Linked DNA regions of Homo sapiens. The protein of the gene in region 3 interacts with the protein of the main gene of each other region in a pairwise test. Each region holds a gene or a part of one and is shown on either strand. Other genes may lie near its edges.

Region 1 (3,500 bases), on a different chromosome or scaffold from region 3:
GCAGTCACAATCCTCTACTGGTGACAATATGACTTTATAATATTAGGGAAAAGTCCTTCCACACCTCATAAAATGCAATCAATTCATAATTTCGGTGCTGAGAGAATTTACTTTCACACATTCTAGGTTTTTTGTTGAGAATTCAATTATTAAAAAGAAAATTCTCAATTTGGGTAAGAATCTGGGCCTTAATTAAAAATCTCAATAAAAGAAAGTACCCAGGCAAGGCTCAGAACCTCTATGAAGTACAATATGATGGAAATTTAAAAACACTTGTTAAAAAAAAACCACACACACACATTTTCATTTGTTTATATCCATGAAAGTGTCAACTGAAAAAAAAAAAACCTACTTAAATAATTATCCTTGAAAATCCAAGTAAAAACAATGTGTAAGTAAGACTAATCTCTACAGCTCATTTGTTGGTTGGTTGATTTTGAGAAAGTAAACCAATGCTTTATTATGTAATAACAACAAACCCAAATAAAAGCATCTTCAAATTTGCCCAAGAAGCTTCAGAGCAAACTCTTTCTACTTGATAGTTCCCCTGGGAGTAATAAAGAACTCTCTTTGCACTGTCAAATTTACAAAAGCTAAGCAACCACTTTTCATCTGGCCTGAAACATCCACAAGCCTTTTTACTGAATGTGGTTCTTTCTACATAAACACAGAGAGGCAACAAGCAGAGGCACACAGACAGACACAGGACTACCAAGTAAATAGCCTGGACTGAGTCCTATCAAGATTTGTCACTTTTCCTCTACTAGAGTCTGTTATGTCTGAACTACAACAACGAAAAGTCTTCTCTCTCTGGTAAGAATGACTGCATTAAGCAGGTCAAACTCTATTATCAAAAATATCAGGCCGGGCGCGGTGGCTTATGCCTGTAATCCCAGCACTTTGGGAGGCCGAGGCAGGCAGATCACGAGGTCAGGAGATCGAGACCATCCTGGCTAACACGGTGAAACCCCGTCTCTACTAAAAATACAAAACATTAGCCAGGTGTGGTGGCGGGCACCTGTAGTCCCAGCTACACGGGAGGCTGAGGCTGAGGGAAGAGAATGGTGTGAACCCAGGAGGCGGAGGTTACAGTGAGCCGAGATTGCACCACTGCACTCCAGCCTGGGCAACAGAGCGAGACTCTGTCTCAAATTAAAAAAAAAAAAAATCAGTTACAAGTCACCCAGAAAGCTACAGAAATTAGTGCCATGCTAACAAATGCATAACTAAAATGTAACCGTAGGAATTTGATCCACAAAACCCAGCATGCTGATGAAACACCAGGAAAATGCAGTAGAAAGACATGATCACTGTGTTTGAAATCCCCTTAAAGATTTGAGACACAATCCCAGAGTAATAAGGCAAAAGAGCAACTTGATCAGGTGGTAGAAAATTACCTTTGGAGGACAGGAGGAAATAAGATTAGAATAGTCTGGAACATAGTTAAGTCCAGACTATGAATCTCTCTTCAACAAATCTACCTAAACTTTTATGGAGTCAATTTACATGTTTACTCAATATAATTTCTTAGGCTGATAAAATGCTACAAAATTTCATTCTGTACAATGACAAAAATGAAATGTACAATTTAACTTTCTAACAGTAGAGATGTTTTTCTTAGTAGGAATAACAAACATGATCCATTCAAGGGAAAAAAGGATATTTTATTCATCTTTGAATACTTGACAAGGGTAAATAATAGTCAATAAGAATTTGTTGAAGAACAGGAAACATTTCCCAGAACAGGAGCTGCATCTGCAGCTGTGGCCATAGAACAAGAAAAAATGCCAGTTGGCCTATTCAAAAACTGAAACTGGTAAGAAAAATGGTTAATGGTTGAGTTCTCACTCAAAAAATTAACTAATATCAGAATGGTCACTTTGATTTTTTTTTCTTTTGAGAGCAGATCTCACTGTGTCACCCAGACTGGAGTACAGTGGTGCAACCGTGGCTCACTGCAGCCTCCTTGACCTCCCAGGCTCAAGTGATCTTCCCACCTCAGCTTCTTGAGGAGCTGGGACTACAGGCGCACACCACCAAGCCCAGCTAATCATTAAAAAATTTTTTTGTAGAGATGGGGTCTCACTGTATTACCCAAGTTGGTCTCAAATTCCTGGGCTCAGATGATTCTCCCACTTCAGCCTCCTGAAATGCTGGGATTATAGGTGTGAGCCCCCACACTGGCCTCAATCTGACTTCTAATTCTTCTAGATCTTTTCCTTTAACAAAATTCTTTTTATGAACCAAAAATAAGATTAAATTGTCATAGTTTCTGCCTTTTTTCATTATATAATATCTGCTCATATCAAGGGATAATTATCAAGGACAATGATTTCCATTGTAGAATGTGTGGACATACACTCAGCCCTCCATGTCCATGGGTTCTGCATCCGTGCACTCAACCAACTTCAAATTGAAAATACAAAAAATTAAAAAAAATTGTGTCTGAACTAAACATACAGCCACATCTATCATAATACTTTTTAATCTTTTCCAGTTTGATTATTCACTGAACATTAACATGCTGCATTGAAACAAAGTAGATGTGTAACGAGATATTTAATGCTTTCTCTAAAATATGGCAAAACTACTGTTAATTGCCACACAGATTTTTCATTTCTTTAGAAAACACAACAAATTTATTTTTAAAATGTCCCCTGGAACAAAGACGACAATCTCTGGTGACTAGGAAAAGTCCTGCTGCTACTGCACTTCTCTGGCAGAGGCAGAAAAGAAGTAGTTTATATTCTCCTTCTTATTTTGGTCCTATCTAATCTTTTCTTCTTGTGCTGCTTATATATTAATTCAATAAATACCACTAGAAAGGGATGATGATGGAATACTAAGCCCTATCCCTTGTTTTCCTTTCACTACAGGTTCTCCCTATGACTTCAGATAGAGAGCTGAGAAATAAGGGAGCAGAACCAAGTTAAAAGCTCAAAACCCTGAAAGTCTACCCCCTTCAGTGTTGCTCCTATTTTATTTTTATTTATTTATTTATTTTTTGAGACCGTGTCTTGCTCTTTTGCCCAGGCTGGAGTGCAGTGGCGAGATCTCGGCTCACTGCAAGCTCCGCCTCCTGGGTTAACGCCATTCTCCTGCCTCAGCCTCCCGAGTAGCTGGGACTACAGGCCACCACCACCACGCCCGGCTAATTTTTTGTATTTTTAGTAGAGACGGGGTTTCACCATGTTAGCCAGGATGGTCTCGATCTCCTGACCTCATGATCCACCCGCCTCGGCCTCCCAAAGTGCTGGGATTACAGGCTTGAGCCACTGCGCCTGGCCGCTCCTATTTTTAAAGGACAATAAGGGACAGGCACAGTGGCTCATGCCTATAATCCCAGCACTTTGGGAAGCTGAGGCAGGAAGATCACTTGAGGCCAAGAGTTTGAGACCAGCCTGGGCAGCACAGCAAGACCCTGTCTTTAAAAAAAAAAAAAGCTGGGCATAAGGCTGGGTGCAGTGGCTCACACCTGTAATCCCAACACTTTGGGAGGC
Region 2 (3,969 bases), on a different chromosome or scaffold from region 3:
GGAGGAGCTCCAGGTCGGGGAAATGTCCCGGAGATTGAAGGGAAGCCCCAGGGAGAGGGCCGCTGCTCGCCAGGCTCCGCAGGCCCGACCTATCTCAGTGGGTTACCTCACACTGCTACGCGGACTCTAATGTTGGCCACCTGGGCGTCTGGAAACCGGCCGGAAGGCCACAGGCAGAGAGGCCTGCTCAACAGTTGGATCTCTATCGCCTAGCACAGAACTTCCCCTTTCCTCATTGGCAATTAAAAAAACAACAACAAAAAACTGCGTCTTGCTTTTGTCACCCAGGCTGGAGTGCAATGGCGCGATTTCGGCTCACCGCAACCTCCGCCTCCTGGGTTCAAGCGATTCTTCTGCCTCAGCCTCCTGAGTACCTAGGATTACAGGCGCCCGCCACCATGCCCAGCTAATTTTTGTATTTTTAGTAGAGACGGGGTTTCACCATGTTAGCCAGGCTGGTCTCAAACTCCTGATCTCAGGTGATCCACCCGCCTCGGCCTTCCAAAGTGCTGGGACTACAGGCTTGAGCCACCGCACCCGGCCCTTCACTGGGAACGTATATGGAATACATCTGCCCATTTACTTGAAGGAAAAACTAAACACCTTTAACCTACGTCTGCCCTGTGGTTGTCACCTGTCTCTACTCCCCTCAGACCAAGACACTGGTCTCTATACACTCTAATCCTTCGCCTTCACTCTCCCCTCTACCCACTCCAGCCAGGCTTGCCTCTTCCTCCAGGAAACTGCCCGGGACAGGGTCCTCAGCGATCTGTGTACTACCAAATGGAATCCAGTGTTCCATTCTCCATTCTCACCCCCTCAGCATCATTTGAAGCTTGCTCCCTTTGACTCCCAGGGGCTACACTCTCCCAGTTTTCCTCCTACCCCCTGCAGCTCCTGCTCAGCTCCTTTGCAGATTCTGACTCAACTTCCATATCTCACGATGAAGTCTGGGCTCAGTCCTGATCACTGGCCTGGTCTGTCTACATTCATCTGCCCCAGATCCACGGCTGAAACACTGACCTAAACCCTCAGACTAGATCCTCCGTGCCAGTACCTTCACTAGGATGTCTAAAAGACGTTTCAAGTGAACATGGCCAAAATTTAATTCCCTTTTCTTCAGCCTCACTGCTACACTTGCCCAGCTTCCTCTTTGCAGCAAAAATGGCCACTAGGCTCCCAGTTACTGGAGACAAAAGCCCAAACTTATCTTTGATTTCTCCCTTGTCTCTACCTCTGATAAACATGCCCAAATCATCCTGCTTCTTATCTCCATGGCTACTTTATTTCTCTTTGAGAACGCTGCAATGTCCCAGCCTTGTTCTTTTTTTTTTTTTTTTTTTTTTTGAGACAGAGTCTCACTCTGTCGCCAAGGCTGGAGGGCAGTGGCACGATCTCGGCTCACTGCAACCTCCGCCTCCTGTGTTCAAGCAATTCTCCCACCTCAGCCTCCCGAGTAGCTGGGATTACAGGCACCCGCCACTACGCCTGGCTCATTTTTTTTTATTTTTTAGTAGACATGAGGTTTCACCATGTTGGCCAGGCTGGTCTTGAACTCCTGACCTCAGGTGATCCACCCGCCTCCGCCTTCCGAAGTGCTGGGATTACAGGCATGAGCCACCGCGCTCGGCCCCTTGTTCATTCTTTGCATTCTGTCACAACTTTGTGCTCCCCCCAGCTGAATTTGTGATGTCCTCTTGTACCGGATGAGAGGGTCTCCATGCACACACAGACCTGGGACACTATCCATCCACAAGTTCCTAAATAGGCCAGAGCAGTGATGCTCAACCCAGACTCCATGTTACAATAATTTGGGGAGTTTTTAAAATTTACTGATGCCTAGGGTCCACTCCCAGCAGTTGATTCAACAGGTCTGCGGTGGGATCCAGGCTAGCGGGGAGGACTGTAAAAGCACCCCTGGTGATTCCAGCTGGTGTCTACCCAGGGGAGAGCAACCTTTGCTTGCTGGCGATTCCCAGGGGTGCAGAAGGACTGCTGGGTGTGTGGCTGCGTGCATATTTTAGCATCTGATTCACTGGGTCAGAAAAGGGTGTTTGCTAAATAAAGACTCAACAAAACTCCTGCTTGCAGGGGGCCCACCAAAGGTTCTAAATTTTTCCAGGCTCCCTCCCATAGGTGGTAATTTCCCTTCACCCTAAAGGTTCTGGAGGGGGTCATGAGTGTTTGAGAAGAGGCAAGCCTGGGAAGATGGACTCCGAGGACAGTAGGCACAAACCCTTTCTCAAGAAGGGCCAAGGCATTTTAAAGATAAGAAACTTAAAATCAGCGTATTTTTACATATAAGCAGCCACCTCTGCTCATCTGTGGCCCAGATACGAGTGGAGTGCGACAAGGGATAAACCATTTTCGCGCACTCTTCAGCGATGGGGCGAAAGTAACGGACCTAGTCCTCGGGAGCTGTCCCCGCCGACCCCCTCTGCCGCGACTTGACCCGCGGCGACTGCGCTGCCCCTTGGCTGCCCCTTCCGCTCTCGTAGGCGCGCGGGGCCACTACTCACGCGCGCACTGCAGGCCTTTGCGCACGACGCCCCAGATGAAGTCGCCACAGAGGTCGCACCACGTGTGCGTGGCGGGCCCCGCGGGCTGGAAGCGGTGGCCACGGCCAGGGACCAGCTGCCGTGTGGGGTTGCACGCGGTGCCCCGCGCGATGCGCAGCGCGTTGGCACGCTCCAGCCGGGTGCGGCCCTTCCCAGCGCGCCCAGCGGGTGCCAGCTCCCGCAGCTCAATGAGCTCAGGCTCCCCCGACATGGCCCGGTTGGGCCCGTGCTTCGCTGGCTTTGGGCGCTAGCAAGCGCGGGCCGGGCGGGGCCACAGGGCGGGCCCCGACTTCAGCGCCTCCCCCAGGATCCAGACTGGGCGGCGGGAAGGAGCTGAGGAGAGCCGCGCAATGGAAACCTGGGTGCAGGGACTGTGGGGCCCGAAGGCGGGGCTGGGCGCGCTCTCGCAGAGCCCCCCCCGCCTTGCCCTTCCTTCCCTCCTTCGTCCCCTCCTCACACCCCACCCCGGACGGCCACAACGACGGCGACCGCAAAGCACCACGCGGAGATACCCGTGTTTCTGGAGGCCAGCTTTACTGTGCTAGAGGAAGAGGGTCCCCACATCCGGCCCTGGCCCTCCTGGTCCGGTTTGCTGAAGCAACACACTTGGCCTACCCACTGGGTGGGGCAGGAAGTCTCGAGCCTTCACTTGGGGTGAGGAGGAGGGAGATCGGTCAGCAGCTTTACCGCCCGCTCTGCTCTCCACTGCGGAGACTGGGGCTCCGGCAGAGGCTGGACCGTGATCTTGAGGTTCAGGGGTGCATTCTGGGTGGATTCCCTTGGCATGGGTGGTCGGCCCTCAGCAACTGCAGCCCTCATTTGGCTCTGTCACCCTGGGCTGCCAGGACACAAGTCTTTCCATGCTTTTCCCAGTGCTTGACTTGGCACTCCCTGCAGGCAGGTGGGTATTGAGGATGGCAATGCATGTGGGGGATGTGGGAGTAGGGCTTAGAGGTCCAAGGTTCTAGGATACCCTCACCTGCAGCAATACCACTCATTCTGGCATCGTGAGCAGCGCTTAGAAGCCTCTGCACTGCAGTAAGCACAGCGGGGCCGCTCTGGAGCCACTGCCTCTAGCACATCCAGCCTGTAGGTCTCAGCCCACCTGGGGGAAAGTCAGGAAGGTCTGACTGGCCCTGGAAGGTGGGGGCACCCCACCCACATCCATGCCTCCTGCATCCCCTCCACCCTCCCTGCCATTTCCACAGGCCTTACCTTCGCGCCTGCAGCCGCAGGTCCTGCTCTGAGGGGCTGAACACATGCTGGAGCTGGTGCTTGGCAATTGCCTGCCACTTGCCTCTGTTTTCTCGCTCCAGCCGCTCCCAGATTTCTGGGATCTAGGAGAGAGAAGTGGAGAGTGGCAGGAAGGTGCTGGTAAAGTGGGACAGTGGTCCTGAGCAGCTAACTTTCC
Region 3 (3,500 bases):
TTCACATAACCTCCTTGTGCCTCAGCTTCCCCATTTGTAAAATAGGTTTCATCAAGTACCTATTTATAAATATCAGTGAGTTGTTAACATGAGAGGAAGTTGTGTGTGCCAAATACAGAGTACTCGTTTGATAAAAGTGAACTCTTATTGTTGTGTTCAAGTTATTTTGAGCTGGAAGAGGATGAGATAATGACTTTAGATTCTTAGACCATCCTGTGATCAATAAATAGTTTCTTTTTCTTTTTCTTTTTTTTTTTTTTTGAGACAGGGTCTCACCATGTTGCCCAGGTTGGAGTGCAGTGGTGCAGTCATGGCTCGCTATAGCCTGGACCTCCTGGGCTCAAGTGATCCTCCCACTTCAGTCTCTGGAATAGCTGAGACTACAGGCATACAGCACCACACCTGGCTAATTTTTAAATTTTTGTGTAAATCGGGTCTCACTGTTTTTCCAGGCTGATCTTTAACTCCTGAGCTCAAACGATCTTCCCACCTCCCTTGGCCTCCCAAAGTGTTAGAATTATCAGCATGAGTCACAGAGCCTGGTCCAAATAACTTATTCTTGAACCCCAAAAACACTTAATAAAATGTATGAACAGGGTGTGGTGGCTTGCGCCTGTAATCCTAGCTACTGAGGAGGCTGAGGCAGGAGGATCACCTGAGGCCAGGAGTTCCAAACCAGCCTGAGTGACATAGTGAGACATTGTCTCTATGAAAATAAAATTAGCTGAGTGTGATGGCTTGTACCTGTAGTCCCAGCTACTTGGGAGGCTGAGGTGGGAGGATTGCTTAAGCCCAGGAGGTTGAGGCTGCAGTGAGCTATGATTGTACCCCTGCACTCCAGCCTGGGCAACACAACAAGACCTTGTCCCCCCTGCCAAAAAAAAATTACACGTAAGTGCTAAAGTATGATTTAATACTACTTTTCTGGAAGGAGGGTCTTTCTATGAGTATTACTAAGTTCAGTTAACTCTAGGCAGTAATTTCCCCCTAATTCATTTGTTATATAAATGACATTCTAACGTAAAAAGGAACAGAAGGAAGTTGCTTTAACAAAAATATGAGCTTAACAACTGAAGTGCTTGATGATTTTCATCACCCTGGGTTCTCTCTTTTTTTTTTTTTTTTTTTTTTTGAGGTAGAGTCTTGTTCTGTTGCCCAGGCTGGAGTGCAGTGGCATAATCTCGGCTCACTGCAACCTCTGCCTCCCAAGTTCAAGCAATTCTCCTGCCTCAGCCTCCCAAGTAGCTGGGACTACAGGCACGTGCCATCATGCCCGGCTAATTTTTGTCTTTAGAAACAGGGTTTCACCATGTTGGCCAGGCTGGTCTTGAACTCCTGACCTCTGGTGATCCACGCACCTCGGCCTCCCAAAGCCAAGGGATTTGCTGGGATTACAGGTGTGAGCCACCGTGCCCGGCCTGGATTCTCTTCTGATTCTTGAGAATGTTCGAACATGTTTTCACATAGCTTTTTCTTCCTAGCATTATTTTATATTTTCATTTCTTGTATCAACACAGTTCACTAGCTTGTTGTCTTACAGAGTTGGCCTGCGTTTCCTGGCTTGGTAAACTCTACCCTTATCATTGGCTGTCAGAGTTTATCAAAGGGTTTGTGTAAAGAGAGTGGATTATTTATCAAGAGCTGCTAGGCACAGTGTGAGGCTGGTTAAAATTTATTTATTTGTTTTTGGGACTGAGCGTCGCTCTGTTGTCCAGGCTGGAGAGCAGTGGCGCAATCATGATTCACTGCATCCTCAATCTCTCAGACTCAACTGATCCTCCCACCTCAGCCTCCTGAGTAGCTGGGACTACAGGCGTGTACTCCCACGCTGGGCTAATTTTTATATTTTTTTGTAGAGATGAGGTCTTGTCATGTTGCCTAGGCTGATCTCAAACTCCTAGGCTCAAGCAGTCCTCCCACCTCGGCCTCCCAAAGTGTTGGGATTACAGGCATGAGCTACCGCGCCCGGTCCTCCTTTCTTTTTGAGGCTGAATCATATTCTGGTGGATGGATAAACTTCGCTGTGTTAGTTTATTGGTCCGTCGATGGACACTGGTGTTCCTTCCCCTTTTGGCTCTCATAGATAGCCAGACGATGAACGCATGCTATGAACACAAATGTACAAATATAATATTTGCTGGCATCCCTGCGTTCCTCTCTTTGTCCTGTAGTGAATGCTATTGGCCTTGTTTCCTGAGCAACCTGTGTTTGTCCCTCTCCCTTTCATCAGTTACCGTGCAGACGGTCTACGTGCAGCACCCCATCACCTTTTTGGACCGCCCTATCCAAATGTGTTGTCCTTCCTGCAACAAGATGATCGTGAGTCAGCTGTCCTATAACGCCGGTGCTCTGACCTGGCTGTCCTGCGGGAGCCTGTGCCTGCTGGGGTGAGTCTGCCTCCCACTTGGCCCCAAGCCATCCTGCCCTTCTCTCTGGGTGCTGGCGGGGGTGGGTTCTCAACTGCACCATGCTTGACATTCAGGGCCAGACATTTGTGTTGTTTTTTTTTGAGATGGAATCTGGTTCTGTCGCCCAGGCTGGAGTACAGTGGGGCGATCTCGGCTCACTGTAACCCCCACTGCTCAGGTTCAAACGATTCTCCTGCCTTAGCGTCCCGTGTAGCTGGGATTATAGGGGTGCACAACCACGCCCAGCTTATTTTTAGTAGAGCTGGCATTTCACCATCTTGGCCAGGCTGGTCTCAAACTCCTGACCTCAGGTGATCTGCCCACCTTGGCCTCCCAAACTGCTGGGGTTACAGGTGTGAGCCACTGTGCCTGGCCTAAGGCATTTCTTTCTTTTTTTGTGATGGATTCTCACTCTGTTGCCCAGGCTGGAGTGCAGTAGCACGATCCCGGCTCACTGCAACCTCCGCCTCCCAGGTTCAAGCTATTCTCCTGCCTCAGCCTCCTGAGTAGCTGGGATTACAGGTGTGCACCGTCAGGCCCGGCTAATATTTTGTACTTTTAGTAGAGATAGGGTCTCACCATGTTGGCCAGGCTGGTCTCGAACTCCTGACCTCAGGTGGTCCACCCGCCTCAGCCTCCCAAAGTGCTGGGATTACAGGTGTGGGCCATCATGCCTGGCCCAAGACATTTCTTTATTGTAGGGGGTGTCCTGTGCATTGTAGGATATTGAATAGCATCCCTGGCCCCCACCCGCTTAATGCTAGGAGCACCACGCTCCCCAGTGTTCTGAACAAAAATGCCCCCTGGGAGGCCAAGTCATCCCTGCTGCTCTTAAGCGTATCCGTCCCCAGAAATTGGTCTTCCGTCTTTTCTTCTTGCTTATCTGCTGAAACCACGCCCTGCATGTAGGGACAAGCTTCACAGCTGCTTCCAGCTGTGTACAGGGCAATATCCTCAGGGATTCCTTTTTCTTCTAGAATTTCATGACCTAAATAATAATGTTTTGCTCGAGCCCGAGGGAAGCTTTAAAGAATCTGTACATTAAAATTCTTCATAGGAATTGCTTCAAAACTTCTTATCCTTTTATGACCC
Region 4 (3,500 bases), on a different chromosome or scaffold from region 3:
TCCTTGCTTACTAATCACTAGCCAATCAAGAACCTCCCTGCATCTACGTTTCCTACTCTGCAAAGTGAGAATAATAATGAAACCATTACAGGACTCCTACAAAAATAAAAAGATTACTTTTTTGGGGGATCCCCACCAACAGAGAGGTCCTACTAGACCCCCTGGAAAAGGCATTTGACTTTCATTCCCCAGGCCCTACCTGTGTCTGTTTAGACTCCTACTTTAGTCACATTTTCTGGCTTCAAATCCCACACAAAGGCTCTGTATGTAAACCAGGCTGCCATCCTGCTCTGGGATTCTGAACATTATCAGTGAAATCCATTATGCAGGCAAGTCTCTAGTTGCAGTCCACATGGCTCTGTCCTGCACCCTGTTCTGGCCCATGTTCTTAGAAGCAACTTAGATAAAGACCTAGAATGCCTCCTTATCATTTCTTCAGGTAGCAGAAAACTTGGAGGTACAGCTAAGATGATGGCTGGTGGAGTCAAGATTCAGGATCTCTGTTGGCTGGAATAACATTTAAAATGAGTAAACTAAAACTTAATGGGCGTACATCATCCTGCACTTCTTTGTTGTTAAAAAGAAAGAGAGAGAAAGAAAAACAGACAAGCTTGATTGCAGAAATGCAAATCTGGAAATCTGACTTCTTAACAATTTATATGAGATGACCAGGGCTGGGGTTCGGATGTCAGGCCTAACACTTGAGCTGTGTGATTGTGGGCAAACCACTCACCTTCTCTGGATTCTATTTTCTTATTTGTAAAATGAGGCTTAAATCAGAAGTCTTAGCAAAAGCCTCTTCTGGCTTGATATATAATTTTGTGTAATACAATACACATAGTTCCATAATCTGTACTTTAGGCCAGTATTCCTCAGACTCCAGTGGGCATATAAACCATCTGGTGATCTTGTTAAAATGCAGGTTCTGACTGGGTAGGTCTCACTGAGTTGAGGTTTTTTTTTTTTTTCCAAGATGGAGTCTCGCTCTGTCGCCCAGGCTGGAGTGCAGTGGCGCGATCTCGGCTCACTGCAAGCTCCACCTCCTGGGTTCACGCCATTCTCCTGCCTCAACCTCCCGAGTAGCTGGGACTACACGCGCCCGCCACCACGCCTGGCTAATTTTTTTGTATTTTTAGTAGAGACGGGGTTTCACCGTGTTAGCCGGGATGGTCTCTATCTCCTGACCTCATGATCCGCCAGCCTCGGCCTCCCAAAGTGCTGGGATTACAGGCGTGAGCCACCGCGCCTGGCCGGGACTCTGTATTTCTAACAAGCTCCCAACTGATGCTGAGGCTGTTGGTTGGAGGAGCACACTTTAAGTGGAGTAGACCCAGATAGTAACAATTTACCTTTAGCGCATTCTGAGTGCTGACCGCTGCATCTTACATGCATGACTGCATTTAATCCTCATAACAACCTGGGAGGGAATTATCAACAATACTTTCATTTTCTAGATTATGTAGAGATGAAAGTTCACAGAAGCGAGGTAACCTGCTCAATGTCACACAGCTAATGAGTTGCAGAGCCAGGATTTGAATTCTAGGTCTGCCTAACCAGGAGTGTATGCTCATAACAACCGTATAACATACGCAGGTGATTTGGGCCAACATGTGGCTAAGGAGAGAAAGGAGATGAGCAGTAAGGTACTTGCAAATGTACTAGCAAGTTCTTGTGTTTTTTTCTTAGCAGTGATAACCACTTGTAAACCGACTGATCTCCTTGCCCACCTGGACCGTGTGAAAACTCTGATCCTGGTCCCTGGTTCTGAACGTTTGCAATTCTAACATACTTGGAAGATATTTAAACACTCTATCTTCACTGACAGGCAATGATGGCTATAACAAAGAGAGAAAATTTTAGTTCACATAAATGATTAGAGCAGAGGAGAGATGTTTAATCCTATTAATGAATTTGCTAATTGGCCTTCTGCCCCCAATCATTTCATATTCAGGCTTCCACAGTGTCAGATGAAATGGAAACAGATCTAGGGGGAGGCGGGGTTGGGATGGGGCTAAAAGCATTTTGCTCAGGGCCTGCACGTAGCTCAGTTGTTCCGTGTGGCTAATGAGGTGCTTCAGTCTATCCTTGAATGCCTTCTCCCCAACATCCATGCACCCGTTTTGACTGTTTTTCTACTCAGGTCCCTAAGGTTCCAGAGGCAAAGCCAGGAGGAGAGGAGGTTAGTATGGCAGTTAGAAGCTCAGGGTCTGGGATCAACCAGAACCAGGCTCTGCGATTCCCAAGCTCTATGACCCTTAGTAAGGCACTTCCCTTTTTAGAGCCTCAGGTTCCTCAACTGCAAAATGAGAACTGTAATAGCATCTTGTCCTCCAGGGTTGGGGTTAATAAAATAACACAGGAAAGAGCCGAGCAAGGTGCCTGGCACTGGGTGGAGGCCAGAGTCATTTGAGCTAGTATTATTATCCTTCCTGGCGGGTGACCTGCATTTTCATACCTCACTGTTGGGAATTGCTTTTACCATCTAAAGTTGACAGCTTCCCTTAGGAATCACCAGAGAAACTGCTTAGAATGCCAGTGACCATGGATATGGTGGCTCGGGATCTCAGAGGGCTGGAATCAGAGGCCACAGCTCAAAGGGATGGGGAGATTACCAAGGGTAACACCGTCATCATCCAAGTGGAGCAAGGCAGAAGGAAGGGGCCTGTCCTGAGATGGGACAAAAGGCAGCAGCAAAGCCAGCACTGCCAACTCACCTGGTGTGCAGCACCATGTTCAATTCCTTCTTGGCCCTCACGTGGCCCTATAGGGAGACACTGTCATTGTCCCCATTTTTTAATTTTTATTTTTTTTGAGACGGAGTCTCGCTCTGTCATCCAGGCTGGAGTGCAATGGTGCAGTCTTGGCTCACTGCAACCTCCGTCTCCTCGGTTCAAGCGATTCTCCTGCCTCAGCCTCCTGAGTGACTGGGATTACAGGAGCATGCCACCATGCCCGGCTAATTTTTGTATTTTTAGTAGAGATGGGGTTTCACCATATTGGCCAGGCTGGTCTTGAACTCCTGACCTCGTGATCTGTCCACCTTGACCTTCCAAACTGCTGGGATTACAGATGTGAGCCACCATACCTGGCCCACTGTCCCCATTTTATAGAAGAGGAAACTGAGGCCTGGAAAGGCTCAGCTATGAACCAATGAAAGGGAGTTCAATCCCAAGACTCTTATTTTAACGCGGTGCTCATAGCCATAATGCAATCCTACTTCTAGCTTCCTGATTTGAGTGGAATGTGGTTCCTACTTCCCCCCACCGCACCAATGAGGCTTTTAGTCTGGCCTTGAATAACAAGATTTAATCCAAAGTACTACTCCCATGGCTGGGGTACGGGAAGCTAGCAATATCCCAACTGACTACCACTACTTCCAGAAGGTGACCTATTTAAAATACTACCCGGAGGAAGGGGAAGCATTTAAAGAGATGTTTCTCTGAAGGCCCTAGGACTCTTAGGCTCTCTCTCTCTTTTCTAAAAACTGTTCCTTCCCTGCC

The links. The genes of interacting proteins can lie anywhere in the genome.
Region 1: the proteins of LITAF (region 3) and STAM2 interact in a two-hybrid assay, tested with the Homo sapiens proteins (4 studies listed by BioGRID and IntAct).
Region 2: the proteins of LITAF (region 3) and RASSF1 interact in binary tests that used the Homo sapiens proteins (3 or more experiments, as listed by UniProt).
Region 4: the proteins of LITAF (region 3) and KCNIP1 interact in binary tests that used the Homo sapiens proteins (3 or more experiments, as listed by UniProt).

The regions. Positions count from the first base shown.
Region 1 is NC_000002.12:152,127,264-152,130,763, forward strand, and holds part of STAM2 (signal transducing adapter molecule 2), read right to left. Parts: intron 1-3,500.
Region 2 is NC_000003.12:50,338,037-50,342,005, forward strand, and holds the start of RASSF1 (ras association domain-containing protein 1), read right to left. Parts: upstream 2,801-3,969; 5' UTR 2,770-2,800; coding exon 2,520-2,769; intron 1,171-2,519; exon of another isoform or gene 1,058-1,170; intron 265-1,057; exon of another isoform or gene 1-264. Other genes in the region: ZMYND10 (zinc finger MYND domain-containing protein 10), read right to left, coding at 3,374-3,449, 3,538-3,663, 3,774-3,895. UniProt on the Homo sapiens protein: Potential tumor suppressor. Required for death receptor-dependent apoptosis. Mediates activation of STK3/MST2 and STK4/MST1 during Fas-induced apoptosis by preventing their dephosphorylation.
Region 3 is NC_000016.10:11,552,420-11,555,919, reverse strand, and holds part of LITAF (lipopolysaccharide-induced tumor necrosis factor-alpha factor), read left to right. Parts: intron 1-2,230; coding exon 2,231-2,387; intron 2,388-3,500.
Region 4 is NC_000005.10:170,510,520-170,514,019, reverse strand, and holds part of KCNIP1 (A-type potassium channel modulatory protein KCNIP1), read right to left. Parts: intron 1-3,500. UniProt on the Homo sapiens protein: Regulatory subunit of Kv4/D (Shal)-type voltage-gated rapidly inactivating A-type potassium channels. Regulates channel density, inactivation kinetics and rate of recovery from inactivation in a calcium-dependent and isoform-specific manner.